Linked DNA regions of Homo sapiens: region 2 is linked to region 1. The links come from fine-mapping of genetic effects on gene expression. Tissue or cell type: aorta. Region 1 holds a variant in brackets; the other region holds the start of a gene. All regions are shown on one strand. Distances are from middle to middle.

Region 1 (2,615 bases):
GATCCTATGGCTTCACTGCTGAATTCTACCAAAAACTTAAAGAAGAACTAATACTAATCTTACTCAAACTACTCCAAAAAATAGAGGAGGAGGGAATACTTACAAACTCATTCTATGAGGCCAGTATTACCCTGATACCAAAACCAGACAAAGACACATCAAAAAAAGAAAACTACAGGCCAGTATCTCTTATGAATATTGATGCAAAAAAAAAAATCCTCAACAAAATACTAGCAAGCAGAATTCAACAACAAATTTAAAAGATCATTCATTATGACCAAGTGGGAGTTATCCCAGGGTTGCAAGGATGCTTCAATATATGTAAATCAATGAATGTGATACATCATATCAACACAATGAAAATAAAATCTATATGATCATTTTAATTGATGTAAAAAAGCATTTGACAAAATGTGACATCCCTTCATGATAAAAACCCTTAAAAATTGGTAGAGAAAGAGCATACCTTAACATAATAAAAGCCATATATGACAGACCCACAGCTAATATCATACCAAATGGGGAAAAACTGAAAGCCTTTCCTCTAAAATCTAGAACATGACAAGGATGCCCATTTTCACCACTGTTATTCAATATAGTATTAGAAGTCCTAGCTACAGCAATCAGACAAGAGAAAGATATAAAGGGATTCCAAACTAGAAAAAAAGTCATCAAATTATCCCTGTCTGCAGATGATATGATCTTAGTTGGACAAACCTGAAGACGCTACAAGAAAACTATTAGAACTGATAAACGAATTCAGTAATGTTGCAGAATAGAAAATCAACATACAAAAATCAGTAGCATTTCTATATGCCAACAATGAACAAACTGAAAAAGAAATTTAAAAAGTAGTTTCATTTATAGTAGCCACAGATAAAATAAATACCTAGGAATTAATCAAAGAAGTGGAAATTTTCTACAATAAAAACTATAAGACAGTTATGAAAGAAATTGAAGAGGACACCAAAAATGGAAAGATATTCCATGTTCATGATTGGAAGGTTCGATACTGTTAAAATGTCCATGCTACCCAAAGCAATCTAAAGATTCAATGTGATCCCTATCAAAATATCAAAGACAGTCTTCAGATAATATGGAACCATAAAAGACCCAGAATAGCCAAAGCCATCCTAAGCAAAAAGAACAAAATTGGAGAATCATATTACTTGACTTCAAAATATACTACAGAGCTATAGTAACCCAAACAGAGTGGTATTGGGATAAAAACAGACACATAGATCAATAGAACAGAATAGAGAATCCAAAAACAAATCCACTCACTTACAGTGAACTCATTTTCAACAAAGATGTCAAGAACACACACTGGGGAAACAACAGAATCTCCAATAAATGGTGCTGGGAAAACTGGATATCCATATGCAGAAGAATGAAATGAGGCCCCTATCTCTCATCATATACAAAAGTCAAATCAAAATGGATTGAAGGCTTAAATCTAAGACCTCAAACTGTGAAACTGCTCCAAGAAAACATTTGGGAAAATTCTCCAGTACATTGGTATGGGCAAAGATTTCTTGAGAAATACCCTTATAAGCACAGACAACCAAATCAAGAA[T/C]GGACAAACAAGACCACATCAAGTTAAAAAGCTTCTGCACAGCAAAAGGAAACAATCAACAAAGTGAAGAGACAATCCACAGAATGGAAGAAAATATTTTCAAACTACCTATCTAACAAAAGATTAATAATCAGAATATGTAAGTAGCTCAAACAACTCTATAGGAAAAAATGTAATCATCCAATTAAAAAATGGGCAAAAGGGCTGGGTGTGGTGGCTCATGCCTCTAATCCCAGCACTTTGGGAGGCCAAGGCAGGTGGATCTCTTGAGGTCAGGAGTTTGAGACCAGCCTGGCCAACATGGCAAAACCCTGTCTCTACTAAAAATACAAAATAGCAGGGCGTGGTGGCATGCACCTGTAATCCCAGCTACTCGAGAGGCTGAGGCAGGAGAATCACTTAAACCCAGGAGGTGGAGGTTGCAGTAAGCCAAGATTGAGCCACTGCACTCCAGCCTGGGCAACAGAGCAAGACTCTGTCTCCAAAAAAAAAAAAAAAGAAAAAATGAAAAAAAATGGGCAAAAGATTTGAATAGACATTTTTCAAAAGAAGACACACAAATGGCAAACAGGTCTATGAAAATGTGCTCAACATCACTGATCATCAGAGAAATGCAAATCAAAACTACAATGAGATATCATTTCACCCTCGTTATTAAAATGGCTTATATCCAAAAGGCAAGCAATAACAAATGCTGGCAAACGTGTGGAGAAAAGGAAACCCTCAGACGCTGTTGGTGGGAATGTAAATTAGTACAACCACTACGGAGAACAGGTTAGAGGTTCCTCAAAAAACTAAAAATAGAGGTACCATATGATCCAGCAATCCCACTGCTGGATCCCACCAAAGATAAAAAAAAAATCAATATATCGAGGAGACATCTGTACTCCTATGTTTATTGCAGCTCTGTTCACAACAGCCAAGCTTTGGAAGCAACCTAAGTGTCCATCAATAGGTGAATGGACAAAGAGAATGTGGTACTTACACACCATGGAGTACTACTCATCCGTAAAAAAAGAACAAGATTCAGTCACTTGCC
Region 2 (2,615 bases), 350 kb before region 1:
GGCTTTGACTTAGTTTTCTATTAACTTAAAAAATGAGCTGTTTCCAACCCTCTAAAATCTATATTTCTAAGGTTGTATTTCTTCCAATTAATCCTTGACTGATTATACAGAAAATATTCTCGGACTATGACTCAAGTGACCAAAAAATATCTACATTCCAATTCAGCTAAGCTTCGGCATGTCCTTCTTGACTCCTCTCCACCTCTTCTCCACCCTTCCTCAAAGTCAACTCAGGTTAACTTCCTATTTTCCTTCAACCTCTGTATTGAACACACCAGAAGCAGCTTTAACCTTCCCTGTGCCTTCTTTCAAGGGAGCTGTTCTCCCTCCAGGATATCACTCCTCCAAACTGAGCTTAGATTGCAAGCCCCTGAGGGTATAAATCTGAACTGAATCTGTAACTCCCAAGAGAACCTAAAAGAGATCCTAGAACAAAACAGATGCTGGATAACTAATGTAACACAATGAAGATTAAGGCTCAACAACGTCGGGAGCCTTTGCTAATTTACTCACTGGGCTCCTCTGGTGACCACATACTCTCAAACTAAATACACTCACAAAACATGAATGTCTGTATCTAATTTATACGATAGATTTTTCATAGCTTTCTTCCTTGTAAGGCATCCCACTCCCACCTGCAAACGTATTACTCCTTCCCCTGAGGCAATGAAACAAATGTAAAAGTAAAATACCTTTAAAGAGTGCCTAGGTAAATTTTTGTCTTTATAATGTAAAATAAACTCCCCAGGGTATACCTTTCCCAAAGGAAGGTTCTTGTAATCTTCCCTGTAAGTCTTGAATCCGCTAAACTGAGGTAAAACACAAAAGAGAAAAAGGCTTGTATTGCAAGTTTGAACTGTAGTGATAAAGGAGAAGCTGAACTTTGGAAGGCTGGCTGGGGGCCGGTAGGTTGACCTTGGTGAGAGCGCAAGCAAGTTCCAAACCCGGGGCCACCTTGCAGGGCGCGTCCACCGTCCCACGGACCCCGCGCACCTGCCCTCTCCCCCGGCTGGCTCGCCGTGCCCACCTCGCTCTCCACTGGCCCGAGCCTCAAGCGGGCGCTGGACTTTACCTTGCGTGACGGCCAAGAGGCAGTAGTGAAGCAGAAAGCCTCCAGGTGTGTTGCAGCGCTGGAGACATTGAGGATGGAAGTTCCTCCAGCCGTAAGACCCCTCCTCAAACTCGGACAGCGACAGTGACCGGAGCTTCTCTTCGGAGACATTGGGAGGGGCTGAAGGCAGAGATGGCTCTGGTGACTTCTGGGGCTCCTGGGGCTTCTGAAGCTCCTGTGGCTGAGAATTCTCTCTTTGGGGGTCAGAGGACAAGGCAGAGACTTCGATTTGGGAGGGCGACGCAGACAAGCGGCGCAGGATGTCTGGGCTGGAGGGGACAAAAGCCAAGTTCTCAATACCTTTGGCGCTCTTCATGTCTGGATGGGTTCTCCCGACTCCGGTGCTTCAGAGCAGCAGAGCCAGGTCCCTCTCTGGCTCCTCCCACAGGCAGGTGACAGCGCCCCCGTGCGGGAAGCTTCCCGCCTCCTGGCCCTCCAGCCTCCAGCGCACTCTCCGCCACCGCCTGAACCTTCCTACTCCAGCTCGCAGCTGTCTGGAGCGCAGAGCGCTGAGCGGGGGCGTTAGCGCCCCAGCCTGTGGCTTTGGCGCTCAGCTGTGCCTCACCCGTCGCCTCAAGGACCAACCGGAAGGCGCGGCGTGGGCGTGCCACCCGGCGGCGGCCGAGTAGAGGGGGCGAGAGTTCTCACCCCACAGCCTTCGACCGGAGTCCGCCTCCGCCCAAGCCCCTGCGGTTCTGACCTGAGCCTTCAGCCCGCAGCGCGCCTCCCTTGAGCCCAAGCACTGGGAACACACAGAGACTGTGGGAGTCTCTGGCCATAAGCTCCCCTTGGGTGCTGACATGAAACCTGTAAACAGTTGCATCAGGAGATTGTTCAGGAAACTATCTTGCGTTTTCTTCCTTTGCTGCTTACCAAAGCAGTCTAGGCTTGGACTCCAAGAATCAAGACGTCAGAGGTATACTTTGGTTCATGAGCATCTTGATAAGACTCTTGCCTGTCATCCTGTTACTGGTAGAAGGTGTCCAGGTTCTTGGCATCTTGAAGAAAGAATTGAAGAAAACGCACAAACAAAGCAAGGAAGGAATGAAGGGGTTTATTGAAAATGAAAGTACACTCCACAGTGTGGGAACGGGCGAGCATAGGGGCTCAAAGGCCCGGTTACAGAATTTTGGGGAGTTTAAATACCCCCTAGAGGATTCCATTGGTTACTTTGGGTATGCCCTATGTAAAGGGAGAAGATGAAGTAAAGTTACAAAGTCATTTATGGCCTACGCCCTATGGAGAGGATATTTCCTGTTACAGCTGAAGTGTGAATAGGCCTTATGTTTCCTGCCTCCAGACCCTATTTTCCTGCCTCAGTCCTCCTTAGAAAAAGAAATCCACCCCACCCCACCCCCATCACCACCAGGATGAACATCACAGCATAACCACTGCTTTGCTTTTCCTTCTCCGAAACTGAAGGACCAGAAATTGTCTCTCTGCTGTATATTGCATATGTAAGATATACAGTGATGACAATCATGTAAATAATTTCTACCGGGCC

Alleles and levels. Positions count from the first base shown, and alleles are read on the strand shown. Sizes are in standard deviations (SD) of each study's normalised expression.
As copies of C replace T in region 1, the expression in aorta of the gene that starts at base 1,449 in region 2 goes up (moderate effect, 0.56 SD a copy in GTEx).

The links. PIP is the estimated chance that this variant, and not a neighbour inherited with it, causes the effect.
Region 2: SLCO4C1 starts here. The variant in region 1 is fine-mapped to the expression of SLCO4C1 in aorta (GTEx, PIP above 0.99).

The regions. Positions count from the first base shown.
Region 1 is chr5:102,645,628-102,648,242 of GRCh38, forward strand. The region is part of intron 1 of LINC00491 (long intergenic non-protein coding RNA 491); the gene reads right to left. Among named protein-coding and RNA genes, the nearest start is that of LINC00491, 25 kb to the right of the region's middle. The variant T/C (reference allele first, on the strand shown) is at 1,577.
Region 2 is chr5:102,294,836-102,297,450 of GRCh38, forward strand. SLCO4C1 (solute carrier organic anion transporter family member 4C1) reads right to left here and starts at 1,449. Exons shown (of 13, transcript NM_180991.5): 1 at 1,073-1,449. The coding sequence starts at 1,427. RefSeq lists an enhancer at 1,215-1,414.